Regions from separate parts of the Homo sapiens genome. Here region 1 is linked to region 2. Evidence: fine-mapped expression QTL. Tissue or cell type: naive CD8 T cells. Region 2 holds a variant in brackets; the other region holds the start of a gene. All regions are shown on one strand. Distances are from middle to middle.

What was found. PIP is the estimated chance that this variant, and not a neighbour inherited with it, causes the effect.
Region 1: it holds the start of NDUFA6-DT, and the variant in region 2 is fine-mapped to the expression of NDUFA6-DT in naive CD8 T cells (Schmiedel 2018, PIP 0.95).

Annotation. Positions count from the first base shown.
Region 1 is chr22:42,086,269-42,094,443 of GRCh38, forward strand. It overlaps NDUFA6-DT (NDUFA6 divergent transcript), which reads left to right and starts at 4,665. Exons shown (of 5, transcript NR_034118.2): 1 at 4,665-4,913; 2 at 5,029-5,332; 3 at 5,851-5,964. NDUFA6 (NADH:ubiquinone oxidoreductase subunit A6) reads right to left here and starts at 4,504. Exons shown (of 3, transcript NM_002490.6): 1 at 4,338-4,504; 2 at 792-907; 3 at 1-46. The coding sequence starts at 4,476.
Region 2 is chr22:42,129,301-42,137,447 of GRCh38, forward strand. CYP2D6 (cytochrome P450 family 2 subfamily D member 6 (gene/pseudogene)) reads right to left here and starts at 1,510. Exons shown (of 9, transcript NM_000106.6): 1 at 1,312-1,510; 2 at 438-609. The coding sequence starts at 1,491. RefSeq lists promoters at 1,516-1,982, 1,569-3,101, a cis regulatory region at 2,795-2,806 and enhancers at 6,935-7,523, 7,524-8,111. The variant C/T (reference allele first, on the strand shown) is at 3,669.

The DNA.
Region 1 (8,175 bases), 43 kb before region 2:
TCCGCTGCTTCCATACTTTAATTGTTTCTTCCAGTTCGATCTTTCCCTGAACAGTGAGGAGAGAGGTCATCAGTCAAAGTTGTCAAGTTGAAGGCATATGACACTGAAGGCCAGGATTCTATTCTCTGCTCAGCATGGACTTGTTGAATGACCTTGGGCAAGTAACTACTCTGTCTGGGCAAAGTTTCTATGTCTGGACAATGAGGTGGTCAGGGTAAATCATTTCTGACACTTTTCAGATTCTTTAACTCTGTGGTTAACTGGTACCAAGAGGAGAAACATACAGGTTAACAGGCTCCTATCCCATGACTACCTAACCTGACTGGCTTAACTTATGTTTCTGCTTATCATTTCTTCTGTTACTGACTGGTCTATGCTGAAGCTCCCATTGATGCTAACGTGACTGGCCAGGGGGACAGAATCAGCCCCAGGATTTGAGTCCATTTATACAGGACTCATAACCACCCTAACTGCCTCTTCCAGCTGTAAACTGGCATTCAGATGAAGTGGTAACTTCTAGGGATGAGGTTCAAGAAGAGTTCAAACTTTCCTCCCTATATCTTTTTTTATGGTTATAAAATGCAAGTCCCAGTGGATGTTCCCTTGATGAATCTTATCTATTTAACCAGATGATAACCTCCAAGTTCAAGTATTTCTCTGAAACACAGCAATAATCACTGCCGAACCAGTAGCTGCTTTCTAAACTTGGAGACAAAATGTTCATTTGGAAAGACTAAGAAGTAGTGGACAAGTTGGCTGATCTTTTAAATTGGTCAGGGAGGGTCAGTTACCTTAATGACCAGAAGATCAACCACCCTGGGGTCTGTGACATGGGCATTCTTCATAAACATTTCTCGGACTTTATCCCGTCCCATTTTCACAGTGATGTCCAGCTGGAATTGGTGCACTAGAGAGAAAAACATGACTCAGGGTAGAAATTGTATGGTTAAATAAAACCTAGAGTCAAATGATACTCATTGAACACATACAGGTCGCCCATTCATTTCTTCACCAAAAAATTAGCCTGACCCTAGGCTAGGTGCTTGAGGATGAGACATGTGATTCATGGTATTTGCTCTCAAGGAACTTATTATTTGTTTGGGGAAAAAGACCACTGAATTTGAAGAGGCAGTAAAGCATTGTTCAAGAGTTTGAACAACCTGGGTTCAAATCCCAGCTTTTGTTAGCTATATGATCCCGTGTAAGTTAACTTTCTTGTGCCTGAGTGTATTTTTTAAAAAATTATTTTATGGGCTGGGCGCGGTGGCTCACGCCTGTAATCCCAGCACTTTGGGAGGCCGAGGTGGGCGGATCATGAGGTCAGGAGATCGAGACTACCCTGGCTAACACAGTGAAACCCCGTCTCTACTAAAAATACAAAAAATTAGCCGGGTGTGGTGGTGGGTGCCTGTAATTCCAGCTACTCGGGAGGCTGAGGCAGGAGAATGGTGTGAACCCGGGAGGTGGACCTTGCAGTGAGCCGAGGTCGCACCACTGCACTCCAGCCTGGGTGACAGAGCGAGACTCCGTCTCAAAAAAAATAATAATTATTTTATTAGCTGGGCGCGGTGGCTCACGCCTGTAATCCCAGCACTTTGGGAGGCCAAGGCAGGTGGATCACCTGAGGTCAGGAGTTCAAGACCAGCCTGGCCAACATGGTGAAACCCCGTCTCCACTAAAAATACAAACATGAGCCGGGCATGGTGGTGGGTGCCTGTAATCCCAGCTACTCGGGAGACTGAGGCAGGAGAATCACTTGAACCCGGGAGGTGGAGGGTGCAGTGAGCTGAGATGGGCCACTGCATTCCAGCCTGGGTGACAGAGTGAGACTGTGTCTCAAAAAAAAAAAAAAAAAAAGGCTGGGCGCGGTGGCTCACGCCTGTAATCCCAGCACTTTGGGAGGCCGAGGCGGGTGGATCATGAGGTCAGGAGATCGAGACCATCCTGGCTAACAAGGTGAAACCCCGTCTCTACTAAAAATACAAAAAATTAGCCGGGCGCGGTGGCGGGCGCCTGTAGTCCCAGCTACTCAGGAGGCTGAGGCAGGAGAATGGCGTGAACCCGGGAAGCGGAGCTTGCAGTGAGCCGAGATTGCGCCACTGCAGTCCGCAGTCCGGCCTGGGCGACAGAGCGAGACTCCGTCTCAAAAAAAATAATTATTATTTTATTAGCTGGGCGCGGTGGCTCACGCCTGTAATCCCAGCACTTTGGGAGGCCAAGGCAGGTGGATCACCTGAGGTCAGGAGTTCAAGACAGCCTGGCCAACATGGTGAAACCCCGTTTCTACTAAAAATACAAAAGTTAGCCAGGTGTGGTGGCACGCAACTATAATCCCAGCTACTCGGGAGGCTGAGGCATGGGGAAATCACTTGAACCCGGGAGGTGGAGGTTGCAGTGAGCCAAGATCGCGCCATTGCCCTCCAGCCTGGGAGACAAGAGCGAGACTCTGTCTCAAAAAAAAAAAAAAAAAAAAAAGTGAGTTATCATTACTGTTTTTTTCATTAAATACTTAAAATTTTACTTTTGTTTTTTATTAATGCTCAGGCTGTTCTAAGTTCTCAACACTATTACTTATTCCCCTTCCTTGATTTGATTCCTCAGCTGGAGTCCTGATGATGGATACCATAAAACCCGTGTGGCACAGGTTTGAGTAACTGGCCAGCTACAGATCACTGATCTTCCCCATAGGGATGCATACTCCTTGACCCCTTCTTTTCTCTCCTCTTCCCTTGCTTTCTAGGCTCCTGTAGCCCTCTGCCTTCTTTTCCTCCTCTCAAGACCCTTCTGACTTTGGGACTTTCTTCCCAAAACAGAATTTGAGGGAAGGTCTTGGGAGGGGTCGGTTTAGAAAGAGCTGGATCCTCAGAGTCAGGATACCTGGGTTCTGTCTTCTACTTGGCCACTGATTTACCCTTCACAAGCCACCCTTTTTGAATGTGGTCCTCCTTCCCCCAGCACCTTCCTCCTGCAACCAGAGAGGGTTCTGGGTACTCCTAGAAGTATTCTGCCAGGCAAACATTATGTTTTCAAACTGCTGAATTTGAATGCACCACCCCGAAACACACACACACACACACACACACACACTGCTACAGTCACTCCCCACACACATCTTTTATCTGCCTGCCCCTGAAGGCATCTGAATTTGCAGTCCCTGAACCAGCAGATCACTCAAGTTTCTCCTTCTCTAGTATCGCGTGGGTTTAAGTTCTGGTCAGTAGCAATTTTTCCAAAAGTCAGCTTGAAGACAGGGACTCTGTGGAGCAGACACAGTTCTCATATGTCAAAGAACCGGGTTCTGCTTGGAAGCTGCTGCTAAGGAAAGCCCTATAAATAACAAAAATAACAACAAAAACAACGGCAGCAGCTAATATTTAATGAGTTAAATATGCATCAAGTCCTGTTCTAAGCACTCTAGATATTTTAACTTAATACAGTAACCTTCTGAAGAAGGAATTATTATTCCCATTTTAAAGATGAAGAAACTGAGGAATAGATGAAATAACTGGCCCAAGGTCACACAGCTAGTTGAGGGCAGCGCCTGAAGAAAAGTCCGTGCTCCTAACCACCACATTCTACCGCCTTTTCACACACACAAGCAGGGACTCGACAGCCCTGAGGAGTGGCACCGTGCTCCAGCTCACTCAAAAACACCTCTTTCTCGCACTTTGGGAGGCCGAGACGGGCGGATCACGAGGTCAGGAGATCGAGACCATTCTGGCTAACACGGTGAAATCCCGTCTCTACTAAAAATACAAAAAAAAATGGCCGGCGTGGTGGCGGGCGCCTGTAATCCCAGCTATTCGGGAGGCTGAGGCTGAGGCAGGAGAATGACGTGAATCCGGGAGGCGGAGCTTGCAGTGAGCCGAGATCGCACCACTGCACTCCAGCCTGAGCGACACAGCGAGACTCTGTCACAAACAAAAAAATCCAACGGGCATCTATAATTACACTCTGCAACTCTAGACTTTGGGTTCTGGGTACAACAGTGGCTCGGCCTGGGCCCTGGGCACATCACTTCACCTCTCGGTGCCTCCGCTGCCTCACCCACAAAGTGAGTGTGTCACTGACAGTCATCGTCCTCCCGCCAATTGCGAAGGACAAAAGAGACCAAAGCTCCGATAGCACGTACGAATGCTAGGCACGGCCGGTCTGACCACCGCGCCGCCGCCAGGTCCGGCCCATGGTAGGCTCGGGTGACCCTCTTCCCCTGAAGCACCCGCAGTCGCCTCTGCCCAAGTTGGTGACCTCAGCTGGGCCCATGAGAAACCCCGGCCGGGCCGGCTACGACCTTGAGCGGCGGCCTCCGGGTCCCCACGTAAGCCGCTACCTCTCACCAGTGTTCGGCACCTCCCGATACCAGGCGCGGTAGAGCTCGCGCACCCTCCGCTTGGCCTCGTTCATGTCCCGACTGAAAATGGGCTTCACGAAGGTGCTGGCGGTAGAAGTAGCTTGGCGGACGCCGCTCCCCGCCATCTTGCCAAAGCATCCACTCCACAACCCCACCCCTTTGCAAGCAGCGCGTGCGGACCGCGGGCGAATGTCTTTTCCCATTGGCTAAGGAGGAACGCCCCGCCTGTATGCTGGGTGGGCGGGAGGATGACTCTGAGGCTCTCGGATTGGCTGGGAAGCCTCTCTCTGGCTGAGCGAACGGTGGGTGCTGCGCATGCTCATCTACAGAAACGCCGCTTGGCCTTTGGACTACACCATCTGTCGCTCGCTCTAACGAGCCGGCGTTGCCGCCAGGGGACGCTCGGGCCGCAGGAGGTCGCTGGGTCGTGAGCTGGCGCCGGGGACGCCGAGCGACTGCGGGGTTTCCCTCAGCGTCCTGCTATCCGGCTGCCCGCCGCGCTCCTTGGTAGTGTCCGTGGGCGCGCAGGCCTTGAAGAACCTCCTCGTGGCGGGACCCCGAGGTAACTGCTGAGGCAGATAATGGCGCCTGGGCTGCGGTGGGGCTTGTCCTGCCGCCTGGCGGCTTTCTGCAGGGCCAGGATATACTTACTTTTCTGTAAACCAACTCTTCCTTAGCGCAGGAGAGGTGTCAAAGAGCTGGCGCGTCTCCAGAGCCCCGGGAGGAAGGCTGTAACGGCAGCCCCATCGTAGACAGGGACATTCGCATCCCGAGCCCTGGATCTCTGAAAACCAGCCCAGAATTTGGAAGCTGGAAGGAACTTTAGATCGTCCATTCTGAGTGTCTCTCTTCGCTGGCGTTTTCCCACTGAGGTTATGTAAACATGAAGAGGAGCCTACAAGTGTCAAGGAAAAAACGACAGCTAACCACAGGGCAGGCCATGGGCAAGATATCTCAGTGTTCTCCGCTCTCATAGGTCAGGTAGGTACCTCAGCATCCCCATTTTACAGGTGAGGAAACTGAGATGGCCCAGAGTCTAGGTCACCTGACAGATCGCCCCCACCTGCCTGACTGCTGCCTAAGAGGCTCCGTCTTTTTCTGAAGGTGTAGTTGACAGGAGCCTGTGAGTATTGGGGAAGGGCCAGGGGCCGGGGCTGAGCATCTACTCCAAACTTTCCCATTTCGAAGGGTTAAAAAACCAGATATACTTTTTTTCTTCCTTATTATCTTCTAAAATGTATATATATATTCAAGTGAGCTATACAAAAGAAAGCACGTAACATATATAAATTATAAAGCATAATAATAAAATGGAAGCTTTTGAACCTCAGTACTGACTTAAGAAGTTGTAACACAGTTAAGGTTTGTATAAAGTGTCCTTAGATGTCCTTAGTAGCCACTGTTCTCTAGTTCTCTAGGTACATTAACTTGGCTAGGCTTCACAACACACCAGTGAGATTGTGTTGATATACCCTTTTTTTTTTTTTTTTTTGAGACAGAGTGAGACTCACCTAGGCTGGACTGCAATGGTGCAATCTCGGCTCACTGCAACCTCCGCCTCTCATGTTCAAGCCATTCTCCTGCCTCAGCTTTCCGAATCGCTGGGATTACAGGTGCGCACCACCATGCATGGCTAATGCTTGTATTTTAGTAGAGACGGGGTTTTGCTATGTTGGCCAGGCTGGTCTCAAACTCCTGACTTCAGGTGATCCACCCACCTCAGCCTCCCAAAGTGCTGGGATTACAGGTGTGAGCCACTGCCCCCGGCTGATATACTCATTTTATAGATGAGAAAACTGAGGCACAAAGAGACTAAGTTACTTTACAGCATTGGGGTTGAAGCCCAGGCAGCTGGTGCCAGAGTCAGTTTTCTGACTCTCGCAGCACCTATACCATGATATCTACCTGTATGATTCTAACCTTGTGTATACCCCTGCCTCCTTCAGAAGTACCCACTATCATGATAAATTCATTGTGTTCAACATTCAAAAAAAAAATGGGGCGCAGTGGCTCACTCCTGTAATCCCAACACTTTGGGAGGCCAAGGCAGGTGTATCACCTGATGTCAGGAGTTCGAGACCAGCCTGGCCAACATGGTGAAACCCCCGTCTCTACTAAAAATACAAAAATTAGCCGGCATGGTGGTGGGCACCTGTAATCTCAGCTACTCGGGAGGCTGAGGCAGGAGGATCGCTTGAGCCCGCGAGGTGGAGGTTGCGGTGAGCCAAGATTGCGCCGCTGGACTCCAGTCTGGGCGACAGAGTGAGACCCTGTCTCAAAAGGAAAAGAAAAAAAAGACCTCTAAACAACCCACAAACTGGGAGAAAATTTTTGCAAATCACATGTTCCATAAGGGACTTGTATCTAGGATACATAAAATTCTTACAACTCAGTAATGAAAAGACAAATAGCCAAGTTTAGAAATGGGCAAGGGAGACAACACCAAATGCTGGTGAGGATGTGAAGCAACAGGAACTCTCCTTACTGGTAGGAACGCAAAATGGTACAGCAGCTTTGGAAGACAGTTTGGCTTTCTGACAAAACTAAACATACTCCCATCAGAAGATCCAGCCATTGCATTCCTTAGTGTTTACCCAAATGAGCTGAAAACTTATGTCCACACAGAAACCTGCACATGGATGTTTACAGCAGCTTTTGTTTTTGTTTTTGTTTTTGAGATGGAGTCTCGCTCTGTCACCCAGGGTGGAGTGCAGTGGCGCGATCTCGGCTCACTGGAAGCTCTGCCTCCTGGGTTCACGCCATTCTCCTGCCTCAGCCTCCAAGTAGCTGGGACTACAGGCGCCTGCCACGAAGCCCAGCTAATTTTTTGTATTTTAAGTAGAGACGGGGTTTCACCATGTTAGCCAGGATGGTCTCGATCTCCTGACCTCGTGATCTGCCCGCCTTGGCCTCCCAAAGTTCTGGGACTACAGGCGTGAGCCACCGCTCCCGGCCAGCAGCAGCTTTATTTGTAATTGCCAAAACTTGAAAGCAACCAAGATGTCCTTTAGCAGGTAAATGGATAAATAAACCTTGGTATATCCAGACAATGGACTATATTCAGCACTAGAAAGAAATGAGCTATTAAGCCATGAAAAGGCATGGAGAAACCTTAAATGCATATTAGTAAGTGAAAGAAGACAATCTGAAAGAGCTACATACTGTATGATTCCAACTATATTACATCCTGGAAAAGGCAAAACTATGGAGACAATAAAAAAGATGGCAGGGGCTGGGAGTGGGGAGAAATGCACAGAGGTGGTGCACAGAGAATATTTAGGGTAGTGAAATTACTCTGGATGTTATAATGGTGGATACATGTTATTACACATTTGTCAAACCCTACAGGATGTACAACACCAAGAATGAAACCTAATGTAAACTATGGGATATGGGTGATACTGGTGTGTCAATGTAGCTTCATTGCTTATAACAAATATATCCTCTGGTGCCTGATGTTGTTGGTGGGGGGAGGCTATGAGTGTGTGTGGGGTGGGGGAACCCTGTATTTTCTGTTCAGTTTTGCTGTGAACTCGAAACTGCTCTTAAAGATGAAATTTTTATTTTAATGGGTAAAGTATTTGAATAACCATTTCTCCAAAGAGGATATACGGGTGACCAATAAGTACATGAAAAGACATTCAACATCATGAGCCATTAGGGAAATAAAAATCAAAACCCTCGTGAGATACCATTTCTCACCCAGTAGAATGGCTAGAGTGAAAAAGGCAGACACAGCCAGTCACGGTGGCTCACACCTGTAATCCCAGCATTTTGAGAGGCCAAGGCCAGTAGATCACTTGGGTTCAGGAGTTTGAGACCAG
Region 2 (8,147 bases):
GGTCACAGGGCCCACTCTTTGTGCATCCACCTTGCTCCCTTGGCTGGGGCAGGGCTTTGCCCCACCTCGTCTCTGCCCACCCTGACCGCCTTTGCACTCAGGGAAGACCCCGCGGGCCCCGCGCCACCCACACTGAGCTTACAGCACAGGTGCGGTCCCCGCCCCCCACTTCGACACCGGATTCCAGCTGGGAAATGCGCCAGCCTCACCCATTGGGCTCCTGCCAGGTCTCGGCAGTGGCCCCGCCCACTCGTCACAAGCCCCGCCCTCGTCCCCATGCTCACACCTCCCTAGTGCAGGTGGTTTCTTGGCCCGCTGTCCCCACTCGCTGGCCTGTTTCATGTCCACGACCCCGCGCCCTCTCTGCCCAGCTCGGACTACGGTCATCACCCACCCGGGTCCCACGGAAATCTGTCTCTGTCCCCACCGCTGCTTGCCTTGGGAACGCGGCCCGAAACCCAGGATCTGGGTGATGGGCACAGGCGGGCGGTCGGCGGTGTCCTCGCCGTGGGTCACCAGCGCCTCGCGCACGGCCGCCAGCCCATTGAGCACGACCACCGGCGTCCAGGCCAGCTGCAGGCTGAACACGTCCCCGAAGCGGCGCCGCAACTGCAGAGGGAGGGTCAGGGCCTCTTGTCAAGCCAGGATCACCCCAGACTACAGGTCCTAGTCCTATTTGAACCTTGGACGACCCCCGGGGCTACCAGGAGTGAGCAGGTGGAAGGAGGAGACCCAGCCTCCTGATCGTGGGGCGGGGGTGGGGGTCACACCTTCTGTGATGGAGGAACTCAGTTTGGATGCGTCACCCAGGTATGACCTTGCAAGAGTCACCAAAATTGCCGAGAGGCCCCAGTTAGCATCCCATTCCCAGATGATGGTCCATGCCGGTGAGCAGTGAGGCCCGAGGACCCACAGTGCAAAAGGTTTGAACCGGGTCACTGCACCCCCTTCATCCTCGATTTCGTGATTTAAACGGCACTCAGGACTAACTCATCTTCCATTCCCAAGGCCTTTCCTTCTGGTGTCAGCAGAAGGGACTTTGTACTCCATAACATATGTTGCCCAATGGGCTTGCATGCCCACTGCCAAGTCCAGCTCCACCTCCAGGCCCTTGCCCTACTCTTCCTTGGCCTTTGGAAAATCCAGTCCTTCATGCCATGTATAAATGCCCTTCTCCAGGACGTCCCCCAAACCTGCTTCCCCTTCTCAGCCTGGCTTCTGGTCCAGCCTGTGGTTTCACCCACCATCCATGTTTGCTTCTGGTAGGGGAGCCTCAGCACCTCTGCCGCCCTCCAGGACCTCCTCCCTCACCTGGTCGAAGCAGTATGGTGTGTTCTGGAAGTCCACATGCAGCAGGTTGCCCAGCCCGGGCAGTGGCAGGGGGCCTGGTGGGTAGCGTGCAGCCCAGCGTTGGCGCCGGTGCATCAGGTCCACCAGGAGCAGGAAGATGGCCACTATCACGGCCAGGGGCACCAGTGCTTCTAGCCCCATACCTGCCTCACTACCAAATGGGCTCCTCTGGACACACCTGGCACCCCCACCCCACCAGGCACAGAGGACCAGGCAGGACACTCTCAGCACACCGAGCGCGTGACCCTTCCCTTATAAAGGGAGCTGATGATGGCCTTTGCCCTCTGCTGTGAGTGAACCTGCTGTGTTGACTGTGCTGCCAGTGGCAGAGTCAGGCCAGGGCGGGTATGGGCTGCTCCAGAGGTTCTTGCCCCTGCTTCCTGCTCCAGGCCCTTACCCAGGGTAGGCCGGTGGAGGGGCCTGGTCGGAGAAGTCACCCCCTCTCCCCACTCCAAGCTCCTGAAGCCTGCAAAGCCTTCTGGGATAACCAGGGTTTCAGTGGACCCGGCCATCCACCTCCCAGCTAGGCTCATACACCCTAATGTAGTCACAACCCCTCCTCCAGAACATGGCCTTGCCCTTTCCCTACCCCCACCTGCCCACTCCAGAGTGACCTTCAGCACCCTTATCTGTCACTGGCACTTACCTGGGGCCTTAGAGCTCCTGATGATGAGTGGCATCATGGGCCTGGTCCCTTCACTTCACCTTGCACTCTTGACATGCACAGACGCTATGCACACACCTGATGGTGCACAGATCTCTTGTCCACTCCCAGACACTTGTCCACTTGTTCACACTTGCAGGGACACGATTACACACGCAGAAAATCACCCACACAAAGACAATATTCACACATACACAGACTCACACTGACACTTAGGGCACACATTCTCTCTCACACACACCAGTCACACACACATACAGACCCGGCACCAAGTACCCCACTTCCCAGCCATGCCGGAGGTTTCCTGGATGGGACCACTCCTGTCCAGAGGCTGCTCCCAGCCCAGCCCACATTCCTGGGCTCTGGCCGGGCTATGGCTTCTTGTTTGCAACAGGGCTGTTCCCAGAGCTCCCAGTTGGTAGCCGGAAGGCCCTTGCCCCAGCCTGTGACAACATCCTCCCGGGCTGCCTGAGGGTCGTCCTCCTCCACTGCTTTCTGGCCTCCATGTTTCTGATTAGAAATCTGGTGGGAACGTTATGGAGGATCCTTTGTTCAGGATATGTTGCTTTATTTTTTTTTTCTTTAGACAGGGTCTCACTCTGTTGCCCAGGCCGGAGTGCAGTGGCAGGATCATGGCTCACTGCAGTCTCGACATCAAGTGGACCCCCTGCCTCCCAAGTAGCTGGGACTACAGGCACCACCCAGCCTAATTCTTTTTTTTTTTTTTTTTTTTTTGGAGACGGAGATTTCCTCTTGTTGCCCAGGCTGGTGGCTCCCCTCCATTGTGCAATGATGCAATCTCGGCTCACTACAACCTTCACCTCTAGGCTTCAAGCAATTCTCCTGCCTCAGCCTCCTAAGTAGCTGGGATTACAGGTGTGTGCCACCACGTCTAGCTTTTTGTATTTTCAGTAGAGATAGGGTTTCACCATGTTGGCCAGGCTAGTCTTGAACTCCTGACTTCAGGTGATCCACCCACCTCAGGCTCCCAAAGTGCTGGGATTATAGGCATGAGCCACCGCACCCAATCCCAGCTAATTTTGTATTTTTTGTAGAGACCGGGTTCTTCCAAGTTGTCCAGGCTGGTCTTGAATTCCTGGGGTGAAGCGATCCTCCCACCTGGGCCTCCCAAAGTGCTGGGATTACAGGCCTGAGCCACTGTGACTACCTGATACGTCTCTTCTCTCTTGCTGCTTTCAAAATCCTGTCTTTTGTGGGAGGGCAGCTGCCGAGCTCTGGACTTCTACGGGATCATCCACTGAGGACAGGAGGACCGGGCCCTCTACAGGTGGATTGTATGGCAGCTGCCATGCTTGGAGCCAGTGCTCACCGAGCACGTGGCGGCTGTGGAGCTGGACGCGGGGTTGATAAGTCCGCTGGGGGTGACGGGCTCATCCATGAGTGGTACTTGATGTGGCTGCAGAAGGCGGATGTGGTGGTGGCAGAAGTGACACAACTGTCCCTGGGTATAGGCTATGATCTGTGCCAGGCCACAGCCCTCAATAAGTGAATCCTGTGCCTGCTCCAGCCGCAGTCTGGTGGAGTGCTGTCGGCCATGATCTGGGAAGAGGCAGATGGCTCTGGGTTCCAGGTGTGGGACTACGGAGAGGGACAGGTGGAGGCCCTGCTGCATGGATAGGTTGAGGCTGATCCT[C/T]CCGAGCAGGTTGCCTCCCCTAACCCAACCATTGGACCTAATCCCATTTTATTAAATTCTTCTCATCCCAGACACTGCTCTAGTACCAGTCCTGGCTCTTTGCCCCAGGAGCAAATTAAAAGGTACATTTAAAATTCTAAAAAAAGAAAAATCTGTCTTTTGACAGTGATTATGATGATGCGTATGGCTGAAGATCTCTTTGAGTTTACCCTACTTGGAGTTTGATGAGCTTTTTGGATGTACAGATTAATATTTTTCATCAGATTTGGGAGGTTTTTCAGCCATTAATTCTTCAACTATTCCTTTACTCCTTTCTCCCTGTCTTCTTTCCTGGGACTCCCATTGCGTGTATGTCGGAAAGCTTGACGGCGTCTCCAGGTCTCTGGATCTCTGTGCATTGCTCTTCATGCTTGTTCCTGTTCCTCAGAGGGTACTACCTCAGGTGGCCTCTCTCCATAGTCACAGGCTCTTTCTTCCAATTGTTCCAATCTGCTCTTGGGCCCCTGGGATGAATTTTCATTTATTTTACCCTACAACTCCAGAATTTTTATTTGGTTCCTTTTTAAACTTTTTTTTTGTTTTTTGTTTTGTTTTGTTTTTTGGAGTATCGCTCTGTCACCCAGGCTGTAGTGCAGTGGTGCAATCTCGGCTCACTGCAATCTCTGCCTCTCGGGTTCAAGCGATTCTCCTGCCTCAGCCTCCCGAGTAGCTGGGATTACAGGCACGTGCCACCACGCCCGGCTAATTTTTGTATTTTAAGTAGAGACGGGGTTTCACCATGTTGGCCAGGCTGGTCTCAATCTCTTGACCTCATGATATGCCCGCCTCAGCCTCCCAAAGTGCTGGGATTATAGGCATGAGCCACCATGCCCAGCCCCTTTTTATAAGGTTCATCCCATTATTGATATTCTCTAATTGGTGAGACATTGTTCCCACACTTTCGTTAGTTCTTTTGACATGGTTCTTTTCTTTTTCTTGGGAGAGGGTCTCTCTGTCGCCCAAGCTGGAGTGCAGTGATGCAGTCATGGCTCACTGCAGCCTCAACTTCCTGGGCTGAAGTGATCCTCCTACCTCAGCATCCTGAGAGGCTGGGACCATAGGCAGCCAGCTAATTTTTTAAATTTTTTTGTAGAGATGGGGGTCTCACCACATTTCCCAAGCTGCTCTCAAACTCCTGGGCTCAAGCAATCCACGGGCCTCAGCTTCCCAGAGTGCTAGGATTATAGGTGTGAGCCACTGCACCAGGCCTACACGTGGTTTCTCCCTTTGAAGTACTAGCCAGGCCTGACCATGCTTAGCTTCCGAGATCAGCAGGTTCCAGCCGGTGCAGCCTCAGATGCAGCATGTTTTAGGTCTTTGAACATATTTAAATGAGCTGACTGAACGTCTTTGTCTAGCAATTGCAGCATCGGGCTGGTCCCATTGGTGACTTTTCCCGTGTCTGGGTCGTCCTTTCGGTTTCCTTTCCATGTCTCATAATTTGTTAAAACCTGGACATTTCACGGGCGATAATGTGGCAACTCCGGAAGTCAGATTCTCTTCCCTGCCAAGGATGTGTTGTTGTTGTTGCCTGTTGGAGCTGTTTCTTTGCTGGGTGACTTTTCTGAACTAATTCTGACTAAGCATTAATGTCTCCATTCCCTGCGAGCTGTGGCCACTGAAGCCGCTCTTCAGTTACGGCAGTGGTCAGCTAATGACTGGTCAGAGAGTTCCTTAGGTGCCTGGAAGCGAAGTCTTTGCCGAGTGGGTCTCTCTCTGTGTGCCGGGCGTGGCTTCAGTGCTCGGCTAGGCAGTGCTCAACTTTCCCTTAGCCGTCACCTGCTGTCTGCACAGCACCTCAGGTCAGTCACGTGTGAGGGCTCAGGGCCTTGCCGGCCTTCCTGAATATGGGCACAGCTGCAGACAGCCTTACCCACGTGCAGGGCACCTAGATTCCCAAGAAGGGGCAAGAGCTGTTCAAAACCACTACAAGCTGGACATGGTGGCTCACACCTGTAGTGTCAGTGACTCAGAAGGCTGTAATGGGAGGATGACTTGAGGCCAGGAGTTTGAGACCTAGCAAGACCCCATCCCCCACCCAAAAAAACAAAAACAACAAAAACTCACTGTGGACCGCTCATGCCCCAGCTGCTGCTTTTTAACCCCAGCTGTTATCCATCACCACAGGCAGCTTCGATTTTCAATCATGGATCTGATGACTTTCAACAAACTTTCCTGAGGAAAGTGCTGTTCTCACCAGAAGAGATCTCAGGACAAATGTAGACAGCCCTGGCAAGTGGGGTCTCCCTGGGAGCTAGCAGACAGGTGAAAGACTGACAGTTCTTGGGGAATTAGGCTTTTCTTTTGTTTTGGAGATGGCGTTTCATACTTATCACCCAGACTGGAGTGCAATGGTGTGATCTCGGCTCACTGCAACCTCTGCCTCCCAGGTTCAAGCAATTCTCCTGCCTCAGCCTCCTGAGTAGCTGGGATTACAGGCACCCACCACCACGCCCAGCTAATTTTTTGTATTTTTAGTAGAGACGGGGTTTCACCATGTTGGCCAGGCTGGTCTCGAACATCTGACCTCAGGTGATCCACCCATCTCGGCCTCCCAAAGTGCTGGGATTACAGGCGTGAGCCACCCTGCCCAGCCCAATTATAGATTTTTTAGGTTTAGGTGTTGACAGTAGCTCTCACCTCAGCCTGTTCTCTCTCCTTGTCATGCAGCCCACAGGGGAGATGGTCAGGCCAGTGTGGGGGCTAATGAATAAATGCTACACTGTGCCCACTCAGGTGGGTAAGGGCTGGCACTCCTCTTCCCCTGGAGTGGGGCGGCTGTGCTGGCACCCTTGGCAGACACAGTAAGGGGGACTGCACCTGGAAAGGATGGGCCAGTCGGGGCAGGACTACTCATCACTCATAGTGTGGGTGTCAGGGTTGTGTCACCCCTCCCACCTCCCTCTGCAGAGACGCAAAGTCAAGAGTAGGAAGAAGCCAACCTCTGAGGTAAGGCTTCCCCTGGAAGGCCCAGGGCTGGGGCTCTCTCCTTTCAGAGCTCAGTTAGACCCAGACACACGGCAGGGAGTCCCAAGGGTAGTGGCAGGCCCCCTCCAGGAAACTCACAAGGTTACCACAGCTCAACTGAAAAGGAAGAACTTCCCAGGACTGTGACACCCCAGTGTGAGAACAGGAGGATGAGGTGCTCTGAAGGCCTTTCTGCCCAGTCTGCCCTCTTATTCCTCCTGCAGGTCACGACCCCCAGGAGACCTGGAGGACTGAATGCTGCTGCCCCCAAGGAGGAGGCTGCCGTCTTATCCCAGGAGGGAGAGCAGGTGAAGTCCCCAGGGGAGGAAGCACCTAGCCCCATTCCTGCTGAGCAGGAGGTGGCAGGTACCCCAGACTGGGAGGTAAGGACAGCCCGGGGCTTCGACTGAACGTCTCCAGCGTGGGTCCAACTGAGCAGCCATGGAGCACTGCAGAGTGGGAGGCAGCAGGGCAGGGAGGCAGTGCTGGAGGCTGGCTCAACCCCAAGACCAGCAGGCCAAGCTGCCATCCCAGGGGAGCGAGGACGTCTGTGCAGAGCTGAGAGGCAGCAGCCATGTGTGAACAGACTGGGCCTCATCCTGGCCCCACCGACTTTGTGTGGACAGAGCCTGTTTCCCTGTCTGTGCAACACAGAACCTGCCTGATCTCACTGCTGGATCCCTCTTCTTCCTGCCAGGAAAATAAAAAGGTTCAAAAGGAAGTTGCTGCGTATCCATCTGGTAAGACCACTGACCCAGCGTGCTGCAGGGGGCTGCTTCCACCCTGCTTCTCAGTGACTGCCAGGGTCACAGACACCCCAGCCCTTTCCCACCTTCCTGACCTGGGGAGGGGAGGGGAGGGAAGCAGCCCAGGAGTCAGGTGCCTTGACCTTCCTGGGAGCCTCCTTGGGTGGGCAGGAACTCTGGGCCACTCCCCTGAGCTGGCTGCATCCCTACCTTTCACCACAGCTGACCTGGCCCCGGGGCATCTCAGAGGGAGGGTTGGTTGCTCCCAGGAGGGGACTCACAAGGCTGCCTGTTTCTACTTTGCAGAGGCCTCTGAGGACAGCAAAGAGCAAAGGCCCTGGGACCGGGTCTACGTGCCCATGACAGAGCTCTGGCTGGACTGGTTCTGAGCCTCTAACACCCCCAAGACTCAGAACCGTGAAGAAAATCTTTCCAATAAATCCAAGAGTTGCTGCTGCTATAGGCCAGGCTGCCACCTTTCGGGGCCTCCGTCTTCAGACAAACCCAGCCTGGCTTCATCCACACTCCCTGTCCCCACAGCTGCAGGAACAGCACTTCCTGCCACCGAGCCGTGTGACCACAGTGGATTGTCTCTGGAGGGGCCCAAGGGGGCCCTGGCCACCCTTCTGACTGACTCGGTGCCAGGGGACAGACCAACGTCCCTCTCGTGCTGACAGCCGGGCCGCACCCTGGCATGAGGGCATTTACAGAAATGCTGGCGGAACTG